Linked DNA regions of Homo sapiens: regions 1 and 3 are each reported to be linked to region 2. Evidence: microRNA targets listed by miRTarBase, many of them from high-throughput screens and not tested one by one. Region 2 holds a microRNA gene; each other region holds the end of a gene's coding sequence.

Evidence for each region. Region 2 holds the annotated microRNA hsa-miR-454-5p (ACCCUAUCAAUAUUGUCUCUGC, at 2,747-2,768, shown strand). A microRNA usually pairs through its seed, bases 2 to 8, with sites in the 3' UTR of a target mRNA and lowers its output. Matches are read on the target gene's strand: a 7mer-m8 pairs with bases 2 to 8, a 7mer-A1 pairs with bases 2 to 7 and ends in A, and an 8mer does both.
Region 1: miRTarBase lists UCHL5 as a target of hsa-miR-454-5p. Seed matches in the 3' UTR shown: 7mer-A1 at 4,241-4,247.
Region 3: the mRNA of KCNJ10 is a reported target of hsa-miR-454-5p. Seed matches in the 3' UTR shown: 7mer-A1 at 3,762-3,768.

Annotation. Positions count from the first base shown.
Region 1 is chr1:193,012,642-193,016,944 of GRCh38, reverse strand. UCHL5 (ubiquitin C-terminal hydrolase L5) reads left to right here. Exons shown (of 11, transcript NM_001199261.3): 11 at 550-4,303. The coding sequence ends at 594. Among named protein-coding and RNA genes, the nearest start is that of UCHL5, 45 kb to the left of the region's middle.
Region 2 is chr17:59,136,596-59,140,595 of GRCh38, reverse strand. MIR454 (microRNA 454) reads left to right here and starts at 2,724; the gene lies at 2,724-2,838. The region is part of intron 1 of SKA2 (spindle and kinetochore associated complex subunit 2); the gene reads left to right.
Region 3 is chr1:160,037,777-160,042,132 of GRCh38, reverse strand. It overlaps KCNJ10 (potassium inwardly rectifying channel subfamily J member 10), which reads left to right. Exons shown (of 2, transcript NM_002241.5): 2 at 1-4,356. The coding sequence ends at 740. Among named protein-coding and RNA genes, the nearest start is that of PIGM, 8.0 kb to the right of the region's middle.

The DNA of each region.
Region 1 (4,303 bases), not on the chromosome of region 2:
TTCAAGCTATATAATTGTAATGAAGATCTATTGAACTAGTATGTAAAAACATTTTTTTTTAGGTCATATAAATAAAGTTTGTTGACACCAAGGATACATAATCCTTTAGTGACATTATGTTAAAGTCACTTAAACTGTTATGTTAAACTCATTTATTCACATTTGCAGAAACTAATGTAAGATTTTTCTTATGCTCATGTGAATAGGAAATGGGCAAATATGTGTATATATATTGTTTTGGAATACTCATGAATGAGTTTGACTTTATGGAATTTTTAAATTATTACAATTATAATAATTCATTTCACCTTCAGATAGGAAAGAACTGCAAACCAAACATGATCCTTTCTTAGGGCAAAGAATAACTATGTAATTGTCCAGGAAAAGTTTGTTATAAGTCTCAAGTTATAAAACATAATGCTTTAGAAGTCTTATAAACAATGTATTTCAAGCCTTTCAGCTTGAGAATACCCTCTTAGGCACATTTTATTCTAATATAGTCTAAAACTGACTTTTAAAATTTTGTAACATACTATTTTTAATTTTTAGGCAAAAGAAAAACAGAACGCAAAGAAAGCTCAGGAAACCAAATGAAGATGTTTTCAGATATGTACACATTTCTGCTTCTGCACATATTTTCATGGAAACCATTATGTATAAAGAACTTAGAGCAACATCCTAATTGGCTCAGTGCACGTTTGGCAATAGTGCCAGCCTGTCTTGTCTTTAATGCATGGATTCATAAACTTCTTCCCTACCTGCATCATGTGCATGTAGTGCATATTAAATGAAAGTGATATTAAGAATGCTTTCCCAAATTCCATTATTTGACATTGAGTCTGACAACTGTTAGTTTTCTGGTTGTCTAACTACCATATGAAGCTAGAAAATGCACAAACGATATTCCTTATCTGTAATTTAAATACTTAAAATTTGCAATTGTCAGATCTTGATTAAACTGGTTGTCTTATTTCTTCTCATCATTAACGGAAAAAAAATCAGTATTTCTATCTTTGATATCTAAGTGTTTTGAGGATTTTAAAACTGAATTTTATCTGCTATACCAGTTATTTGAGAAAGTATGATTTTAATGTAAATCATTTAAAAAGGACAAAAGTATAATTTCCAGTGATTTTCACTGCTGTCAGTAGAAAAGTAATAAACATCTCAATTTTATTTTAGTAAATTTTCTTCAAGTGTTTGGGGTTATTTGTTTATGTATTAGAGAATTGTTTCAGGAAGGTCTGAGTATTATGCTTCAAAGCAAAATTTCAGGTTAAGAAGAAATTGTAAATCTTAAAGAATGTTGGTGTTACTCTCAATGGAATATTGTTTCAAGCTTGTAAGCTGTGTATAAAAAAACTGGAGGTCTGACAGTTCATGTTATCTGCTTTTTTAAAAAGATGGTAGTGGTGATGGGGGTCTTTCTATGCCAATTTGAATAAATTTCGTACAGCCTGCAGTTTTCAAGAGCCATATGTAATTTGCTCACAATTGATTTTTAAAAATTGATTTGGGAGTTGCTTTGTAATAATCTTCTGCTTCTAATCTTCCTTTGCAAGTCAGACTTTAAAGAAGACTTTATAAAGCTTTCTTTTTTAAAGGAAGTAACCTACTTTTTTCTTTATCAAGAATATTTCTGAGGTTGATACATGACTTTAACATTTTATTATTTATTGTAAAATCAATTTAGCATAATTTATTTTATTAGGGAGAATGTGTACCCATCTTCCAGCTTCAGCACATTTTTAAGGATTGTTTTTAAGCTTAGTAATTGTGGTATTAAATGACTTAGAACTAATGGAGAAAAACCTGATAGGAAATTGATAGAAAAACGAATGAAATATTTTTCATACATAATTTCAGTTGGAGGTAATGGAAAATATGTAGTCTCTCAGTTATTTGTGGGTAAATATGTTTTGCTGTTGATACAGTAATAATTATGGAGTGTTTTCAAAGCCATGATATAATTTTTAAAAATAGATTTTTAAGGAAGGCTCATCTTGATCTCATTCGTTTATTTCAGCTTAATTTATATATTCTTTCCTATTGAGGCTTAAATTTTGTTAAGCAATGTGAGGATTATTGTGGTAAGTTGTATTTAGTAATCAATACAGTGTGATACTGGCACTAGGATTGACAAATAAAGCAATGGAACAGAAGAGAGAGCCTGAAAACAGATCAACGTTTATATGATCACTTGATTTCGACAAAGGTGGCAAAACAATTCAACAGAGAAGGAAAGTCTTTTCAACAAATGGAGCCAGAATAGAATAGCTGAATATCCATATAGAAAAAAGTGAACAATGACCCCCTACCTCACAAAAATGACTTTGAGATGAATCATAGACCTAAATGTAATATTTTAAAAGTATGAAGCTTTTTAACTGAAAACAGATGATATTTTTGTGACTTGGGGGGTTAGCCAAAGGTTTCTTAGGTCACAGAAAGCAGTAACCATAAAAGATCCAAAATTAGAGCTCATCAGAATTGTCATTGAAAGTGTTAACAAAAGTAATATCAAATGACATTTGAAAAATATCCTTGTAAAATGACTATATTAATAGGTATAAGGATTTTTCTTATTAATCTAATAAAATTCCTTAATAGGAATTTCCATAGCTTAAGAGTGGTTTATTTTATCTGCATCTTCTTTGGTGATTGCAAATCCCTTGTGATACTTCATGATTACTTCTGTCTGTGAATAAAGAAGTGTGACTTGTCTGGGTGCTATATGTTGCTGGTTTGAAATTAAGTCATGAAGCTAGAGGGTAGAGAAAATGGAAGAATAAAGAGCAACCCATAAATAGATAAATGCTATTTGGAAAGTTTTTTTTAAATGATATTTTATAGAAAATCTTGCTCATTTCATATTTAGTCTTTTCTAAAATTTTATTTAATTATTGGGTAGGTGAAGTCGCTTCCATTCTATTTTAAGCCTTCAAAATAGCCAATTCTAAGGGATGTACTTCTGTTATTATCAACAAAAACCTTGCCAACAGCTGCGGCACTGGCTACTCTCACCTTATATGTTTAGTTCCCAAGATAGCTTGCCCTTTTCCGAACAGCAGTCAGCTCGACTGTGCCACTAAAACAGACAAATATTTGCTCGGGAATCACAACCACGGGGACTTGCTCCCCCAGTTAGGACCATGGTACATATTTGTGTGTATATTATGGTGTTACATGCAGATTAATACTTTCAATTAATCCTCCTAGTTGCCTGTAACGTTAACATTTCAAGATGCATTTAGATATTTTTATCCTGTAGGAGGATTTTGTTTATTTGAGGGAAAAAAAGGGCTTTTAATGTATTCTCCTCAAAAACCATTTAGAGAAAACAGATAAGTAAAAATAAAATTTAAATTACCATATTTCTATTTACAGGGATGAGCACATTAACATTTTATGTATTTAGTGATCCTTTTTCCTCATGTGTACACATATGTTTTTGTGTGTTAGTCTTGCTTGCCCTCCCCATAGTCTGAAATAGTTCTATGAAGTTTATATTATTTTTAAACTTGATCATATACAAATTTTCAGGAAACAAACCACTCTAGCTATTTGAAGAGGAATGCAGATTTATATTGGGAGTTTTGAAACTACATAGTTTCTTACAAAATCATTGGAAGGTTTGGAGGAGCGGTTTCAAGCTTAAGTCTCCAGAGATTACTCCCATCCAAACATACAGTATTGGTGTACCTAGGGAACTGCTCACTTTTGCAACAGTCAGGGAGTTCACTGTTGGAACTATTAATGTTAGAACATGTTGCAGTAGTTGTGTTCAAGGAATGAGGAACCTGCTGTAACACTTAATGACTGTGCACTGGAATGCAGAAAAGTTAAACCTTCTATGCCTAAATGCCTAAAACAGACAAACTGGATAGTTATATTTTTAGAATGATACTGCGTTTTTTAGAGTAGTATGAATTCCTAGATCAGTCAAACATGCATGTTATTTAGTTTGTTCTTTAGTATATTGTTAACTGGCCTAAATCCAATGACTGACATGGTAAAGATTCACCACTTCTAGCATACTGGGCACTTTTTATTTTTGACTTGATTACATTAACTTTTTGAAAACTATTCAGTGATTTATTCAGCCAATCTTATGAGGTACATCTGAGTTGTTCTAGATGCTAGAGGATAGTATAACAGGAAAAAGCCCCTGCTCTCATGGTGAGACAGATAATAAGTATGTAATACAACTTTTCAAATAGTAGTATGAATGGTAAAAAAAATAGGGAAAAGGGGTGGGAGGAGCTGAGGTTTGATAGAATGGTCATGGAAGATCCCATTAATG
Region 2 (4,000 bases):
CTAGCCTTTTAGAGGCAGGGGCTTATGTATATATCCTAGCAATTGTTCCATAAAAGCCTGCAGATTGGGCCGGGCGCAGTGGCTCACACCTGTAATCCCAGCACTTTGGGAGGCTGAGGCAGGCGGATCACCTGAGGTCAGGAGTTCGAGACCAGCCTGGCCAACATGGTGAAACCCCGTCTCTACTAAAAATACAAAAATTAGCCAGGCATGGTGGCAGGTGTCTGTAATCCCAGCTACTCGGGAGGCTGAGGCAGGAGAATCGCTTGAACCCAGGAGGCTTGAACCCAGTGAGCTGAGATCGTGCCATTGCACTTCAGCCTGGGGGACAAGAGCGAGACTTCATCTCAAAAAAAAAAAAAAGCTTGCAGATTGGGAACTGATGAACCTGAAGCCCTTGCTCACTTTTATCCCCTCTGGTTGCCAATTGCCTGAAATAACATGTCTGTGACCTGGTGTTAGGGCATGTTACTGCTTATCTGTTTTGGACAAGCATAGTCATGCATTTGTTCTGTTTGGAAGAGAGAATGGGTAATAGTCAATACTTTCTCCAGCAGAAAAAGGCAAAAACCAATTTTGATTGTGGAGACATGATATAAGTGGTCCTTAGCTTGCTGGGAACTTGAAATATTTCCCTTAAAACGTGTTTTAAAGGGTAGTTGGGTTCCCAGGTGGTTTGTTCTTTCAAATGAATGAATGTTTGTTCTTTCATCTATTCCCTTTTGTCACTGCACATTAGGCTGTATATTAAAAACTAAGGATACAAAAAAGCGATCTCTTGCCAGGAAGATGTTTGAAACCATGTGGCGACATTACCATGTAAACATAGATTAAAATATAATACAGTAGATGGTAAACCAAAGCCATGAACAAAGTAAAAGGAGAGTAGATAAAGGTGTTTCTAAATGTACATTGAAGAGAAGAAAATGTACAAAAAGTAGATTCTGGCCGGGTGCAGTGGCTGACACCTGTAATCCTAGCACTTTGGGAGGCCAAGGCGGGCAGATTACGTGAGCTCAGGATTTCGAGACTAGCCTGGGCAACATAGTGAGCACTCATCTCAAAAACAAAAAAAATTTAAAAATAAAAATAAAAGTAGGTTTTTTGATTATAGCCAAACTAGTTCCATTAAGATACTTAATTCTCCCTTAAAATGTTTCTATGGAAAATGCATTTCTTTTTTTTTTTTTTTTTTTTTTGAGACGGAGTCTTGCTCTGTTGCCCAGGCTGGAGTGCAGTGGCGCCATCTCGGCTCTCTGCAACCTCTGCCTCCCAGGTTTATGCCATTCTCCTGCTCCAGCCTCCCGAGTATCTGGAACTATAGGCATCCACCACCATGCCCAGCTAATTTTTTGAATTTTTAGTAGAGACGGGGTTTCACCGTGTTAGCCAGGATGGTCTCAATCTCCTGACCTCGTGCTCCGCCCGCCTCAGCCTCCCAAAGTGCTGGGATTACAGGCGTGAGCCACTGCGCCCAGCCGGAAAATGCATTTCTAAGCCTGTTTAGTAAGTCCAGAACACACCTGTCTACCAACTCTTCTCTATGCCTAGCCCACCATAGGTGAGACTGAAATACTTTTTTTCACTTTATGTAATTTAATGCTGTTGAGATAAGGTCTCTCATAAGAGGATGTGTTTAGAGCTTTAAGGGCACTGGTCCTTTGTAGGAGAGCATACGGTGGCAATGAGAATCTAGGGGTTGTTTGTAAAAAGCAAGTGTTTTAAAACTGAGGACCACACAGTATATTGTGACAACCGCAATATATTCTTTTCTCCTTGCTGCCTAATAGTTGAGTAGTATGGAATACCTTGTGCCACTTACTTAAAGCCTTAAACTGGTCATATTGAAAACTAGACTAGAACAGGCTGGGCGCGGTGGCTCATGCCTGTAATCCCAGCACTTCAGGAGGCCGAGGCGGGCAGATCACTTGAGCTCGGGAGGTCAAGACTAGTCTGGGCAAAATGGTGAAACCCCATCTCTACCAAAAATACAAAAAATTTACTAGGCGTTGTGGCGTGTGCCTGTAGTCCCAGCTAGTCGGGAGGCTGAGGCATGAGAATTGCTTGAGCCTGGAGGCAGAGGTTGCAGTGAGCTGAGATTGCGCCACTGCCCTCCAGCCTAGGCAACAGAGTGAGACGCTGTCTCAAAAAATAACAAACAAACAAAACAACTGGTTGAGCATCCCTAATCCAAAATTCCAAAATCTGAAATGCTCCAAAATCCAAAATTCATTGGACCATTTCAGATTTTGAATTTTCAGATTAGGGATGCTCAACCAGTAATTATTATGCAAATATTCCAAAATAGGAGGAAAAAATCAGAAATCTAACTGGCAGAATGTAACCTGGTTTCCCTTGGGGTGCTTTCATGATGATTTCCATAGACTTTTTTCACCTAATTTTGTATTTTATATACCACTTTTCAGATCAGTATAAAACTTTTCCCCTTTATTTTTATTACTGATTTTAGAGAAAACTGGTTTCTGAAATACGAATATCTTGGGCTTTACAAAAATCACTAGTTTTATTTTAAATATTCCATTGCCCCTAAAAAGTTAAACAATAACCTCACTGATTTCCAAGGCTTCCAGGAGGCTGATTTGTAACTGAAAGGGCTGTGAATGATGTTTATCAGAATCAAATTTGCGCGATTTATCAGACACTAATGAGTTTTAGATTATCATAATTGCTTAGTGAATTTCTGCCATCTAACTAAAAAAAATTCTGTTTATCACCAGATCCTAGAACCCTATCAATATTGTCTCTGCTGTGTAAATAGTTCTGAGTAGTGCAATATTGCTTATAGGGTTTTGGTGTTTGGAAAGAACAATGGGCAGGCTGCAGAAAGTATGTAGCAGAAACAAGCAAAAGTCATCTTTAGGAAGAAAACAAGGAACTAGATTTCACTATAAACATTAAAATCTGAGGCTTAAATGTAAATTTTTAATTTATTAGAAGAAGGTAACTTTTCTTTTTGACAAATGGGTTTATTTGTAGTATAAAGAAATAATGGAATTTTAGTATTGAAAAGGATCTTAGATTCCAACTCATTTGATAGGAGAGACCCAAAGAAATGAGGGACTTAACCTAGGGACACATAGCTGGTTAGTGATACTAGGACTAGAATTTCTACCATGTATCCGAATTCTTTTATTTTTCTGTACCATACTACCATGTTGTGTTCAGAGGGAATTTTTAGTTGACTAGCTTTGTAACTTTAGTGATATTAATTTAAAACATAAAAAAACTTTAATTTTAGGTGAAGAATGTACATTTTTGGATGGGTGTGGTGGCTGACACCTGTAGTTCCAGCACTTTGAGAGGCTAAGGCGGGAAGATTGTTTGAGCTCAGGAGTTCAAGTCCAGCCTGGGTAACATAGCGAGACCTTGTCTCTACAAAAAAATACAAAAATTAGCTGGGTTTGGTAGTGCACGTCTGTAGTCCCAGCTACTCAGGAGGCTTAGGCAGGAGAATCAAATCTCTTGAGTCCAGGAGGTTGAGGCTGCAGTGAGCTGTGATTTGTGCCACTGCACTCGCCTGGGCAACAAAGCAAGACCCTGTCTCAAAAAGAAAAAAAAGAATTTACATTTTTTCCACATGTGTGACTCTTAATGGCTTAAATATCATCTATAACTTTGTCTAACTACATAAGAAAACAGTAATGGAAATAGAACTAGAGGCAAGTTACTTTGCTATTTTCTCATTTATAAAATGAAGGGTTCAGAGCAGACATTTAAGATGATTTTTCGGCTGGGCGTGGTAGCTCACACCTGTAATCCCAGCATTTTTGGAGGCCGAGGAGGGCGGATCACAAGGTCAGGAGATCAAGACGAGCCTGGCCAACATGGTGAAACCCTGTCTGTACTAAAAATACAAAACTTAGCTGGGTATGGTGGTGCACGCCTATAGTCCCATCCGCTCGGGAGGATGAGGCAGGAGAATCGCTTGAACCCGGGAAGTGGAGGTTGCAGTCAGCCAAGATTGTGCCACTGCACTCCA
Region 3 (4,356 bases), not on the chromosome of region 2:
GCTACATCAGTGAGGAATGTCCACTGGCCATTGTGCTTCTTATTGCCCAGCTGGTGCTCACCACCATCCTGGAAATCTTCATCACAGGTACCTTCCTGGCGAAGATTGCCCGGCCCAAGAAGCGGGCTGAGACCATTCGTTTCAGCCAGCATGCAGTTGTGGCCTCCCACAATGGCAAGCCCTGCCTCATGATCCGAGTTGCCAATATGCGCAAAAGCCTCCTCATTGGCTGCCAGGTGACAGGAAAACTGCTTCAGACCCACCAAACCAAGGAAGGGGAGAACATCCGGCTCAACCAGGTCAATGTGACTTTCCAAGTAGACACAGCCTCTGACAGCCCCTTCCTTATTCTACCCCTTACCTTCTATCATGTGGTAGATGAGACCAGTCCCTTGAAAGATCTCCCTCTTCGCAGTGGTGAGGGTGACTTTGAGCTGGTGCTGATCCTAAGTGGGACAGTGGAGTCCACCAGTGCCACCTGTCAGGTGCGCACTTCCTACCTGCCAGAGGAGATCCTTTGGGGCTACGAGTTCACACCTGCCATCTCACTGTCAGCCAGTGGTAAATACATAGCTGACTTTAGCCTTTTTGACCAAGTTGTGAAAGTGGCCTCTCCTAGTGGCCTCCGTGACAGCACTGTACGCTACGGAGACCCTGAAAAGCTCAAGTTGGAGGAGTCATTAAGGGAGCAAGCTGAGAAGGAGGGCAGTGCCCTTAGTGTGCGCATCAGCAATGTCTGATGACCTGTTCCCACTCCCCCATTCCTCTGGTCTCTTTTCCTCTCTTCCAATGCCCTGGTAAGGAATACTACCCGGGTTTACTGGAGATCCCCCGAAGCACCCATCCTCCACTCCCTCTTCTTTAACCCAGTGGCCTGTTGGTAGCTTAGGCCAACTGGAGTCCAGGTTCGCCTCCCACTGTCCCCTTTCCACTTCCCCAGCTTCTGCCCCAATACACATACCTCCCTTAAGCCAGGATGGGGGAAAGAGTGGGATTAGGCTGAAGTGGCTTAGAAGGCCTCAGCCATGCTTGGATACTCACATTAGGAGGACCATGTGGTTGGAAGGATAGACTGCCCCCTACCTCCCACCACCACCATGAAGTTTGGTGACTTGAGGCTGGAGCTCCCTCTGTTACCTTTCCATCTAGCAAGTTCCCAAAGGCAAGACTCTCTCTGATGGTCACTTTGTGGTCTGTGCTTTCAGAAATACAGGAATCTGATATCAACATATCCTAGGGTTTCTACCAATCTCTGTTGAAAGAAGCCAGGGTTTGCCACTGTGAAGCTTGATTTCTGCTGGTGACTTCTGACCATAAGCTAGAACCATGGTCGCCACTGTTTTCCCTCTGTAGTTTCTCAAGTGAACACTCTCAGGATACCCAGTTCCCTCATAGCCTCTGTTCTCAGAGAATTGGAGTTGGCCCAAGAAACATAAACATATAACCACCCATATCTATCCTGGATTCTGAACTCTTCAATTTGGAGTGACTAACACAAGTTGTTATCTAAACCTTTAAACCTATCTTCCAGGCAGCCCAGAGAAGATCTGTTTCCCTGTGTCCTGTGAATGGAAGGACCCAAGCCAATATGTTCCTTTGAAAAGAGTCCAGTACCCAGGCCCCATGGAAAGGTCTGAAAATAATATTCCAGATTACACTGTACCTGGCTTCTCTTCTTCCTTTCCTGCTCAGCCTAGATCCTTCTTCCTTAACCCCAACTCTTTGGGAGAAGGGAGGGAAAATGCAAGGGCCTTCCTCTCTTAACACGGATGCTCAAGTAAAACTAGATTCACAGGGCACAGATTCCCCAGAAAGTTAACACAATCCCACCATGAGGGATGGGTAAATTCTCAGATTTCCAAACTGCTGTACAGAGCCTCTGAGAATTGGTGATGCTTTGTTAAGGTTTGGGCAGGAGCAGAACTCTGTGGCTGGCAGCCACTATTCTCAGTTACACCTCCCAGTGCCCTTCTGAAAAGTGCCAGCTATTTCATTAGGCAATGCTGGAAGGAAATGAAATTATACCTTCTGATCAAATAACCATGGCTTCCCTCAGCCATTCCTGAGACTTGGTATAAAATGAAGAAATCAGTGTCATCTCTACTCTCCTCTGCCATGAGGCCATTTTCAGACAAGTTAAAAAGTAGACTTTAAGAGATCAAACTCAGCCTATTCCTTGTTCCCTGGTGGGGTCTGTGGTAAGGGTCAGGGAAGGGCATATAGGCACCAGAGCTTTATCCAAAGCCCCAAATCCCTAGAGTGCTTTCTGGTCTCACTTTGGTACCAAGGAAGCCTCACATAGTGGTACTGCATAGTCCCACTATAAGTCAAGTTGCAGTTTAAGGTGGTCTCAGCCAATTGTTACAAGCTACAGAATATATACATGCATCTATGTACAGAGCCTTGCAGAGAAACACAAAATTTTGAGGCTAGACCCATGATCACCACCAACTATAATTGCACAAGGTCTTGTTATATTGATCTCTCCTCGAACTCAACTAACTATATCTTGAAAACAAAGACCCTTCGGTGTCCATCTACAGTAAACCCCACCATTACCTTCTAGTTGGCATAAAAACAAGAACCACAAAAACTTGAAAAATCTGAAACAGAGAACAGAAGGCCAAGAGCCAGCTTCTGCGTTCTCAACTTTATTCAACATTAGACTTACCTTATTTCTTTCAGTGTGTAGGGACAAGATGTACTGCTGTGTGTGTGTGTGTGTGTGTGTGTGTGTGTGTGTGTGTGTGTGTGTGTGTCTATACCTTCCTATCCATTGCCAAGTTAACCTCCATCTGGTTTATTTGGCCATGCTATGCTTTCTTCCCATTCCCCTGCTGTCTATTCTAAGCCCCCAGACTCAAGCCTCTAGACTCTTGGATGAAACAGTGAGAAGAAAACATTTTCTGACTTACCCTTTTGGAATCTCCTCCATTATTACCCAGGCTTTGCTTTAAGTTGCACTTTAAATCACACTGTCCTATTAATGCGATCTGGCATCTTCTCCCACAAGCCCCCTACAGGGAACAACTACCCCCTACCTTAACTCTAAATGGTTCTTTAGACTATAGTCTGTCTCCTCTGACCTGAAATCCTCTTTTAGGCAATAGGCCGAGCTTTAGAAGCAGCCAGGTCTGGTGAGAAATGGGCCCCCATACCAACTGTGGACTTGGAATATCAGCAGAGTAGTAGGCACAGTTGTAAAAAGGGGAGATTTCGGTAGGCACAGGTGTAAAAAGGGGAGATTTCAGAAGACGGGCGAAACAACTGATGGGGGAAGATACCTGGGGTGAGAAGATGAGAAAGAAATGATGCTGAGGGACCTAGTGAAATCAATGAAACTCTTGAGTCTTGCTTAGGCTCGCAAACAAGAAGTGGGGAGGCTTGGGAAATTAGGATATGACATATATGAAAGGTTTATCTAAGAAGAAAGAAACAGAGATAATATATATATAGAAAGATGTATATAGATGTATATATGCCCAAATATATTGAATGTACAGAAAGGAAATATTCAGAGACTTTAGCATTGGGGGCAGATATCTTGGCCTGGTTATGGGGTAGGACACCCAGATTTTCAGACTTACAATCAGTGGTCCTGGTTTCAACATGGAAGTGAGATAGCTGATGAAGGATTTCAAGTCTGGAAATGGGAAAGGGAGGGGTAGAAGTTCCTTTTCAGAAATAAAGAGGCATTCATGAAGGCTTTTGTTGAATCCTATGCTACTGATAGGACCAGGAAGAGAGGAACTCGGAGGACAATAGGGAGGGGAAGTCTTGGAAAATCTACCACTTACACTGTGTGTCCCCATCCCCAGCAGCGTCCTGCCACTGTAGCGCCTTTTTAAAATAAATAAAATAAAATAAAGCACCATTTTGTTTCCCTTTCATGAAGTACACTGTATTTCCGTCTTCCACAGGGGTGGGAGCTGCTATTGCTCTAGCCCCTGAAATCAAACTCAGGAGCTGAACACTTTGGTGTATGGGAGGCACTAATGGGAAGCCTCAACCCTGGAATCCAAATGCCAGGACTAATAGCTGTTAGGCTGAAGATCTCCCAAGGTCAAGGCCCAGCCTTTTGTGTGGCTGCAAGCAGCCCAAAGAGAAAGCCATGGATTCCAGAAGAGTTCCAATCCTGGCATTTGGGCATGGAGGGTGATGCTTTGGTTTTGATGCTTCTGAATGAAAATGAGGAGTGGGGTTACCAGCTGCTCTAGGGGATGGTGAAGTTCCATGAGAGGCTTCCGAAATCTCTGCAATGTGCTTCACCCCATTATTCCCCCAACCCCTGTCAGCCTAATAAAATCATCCAGTAGTTTCCCTATAAGGTCTGAGCAGAGAAAGAAAGCCAGTTAT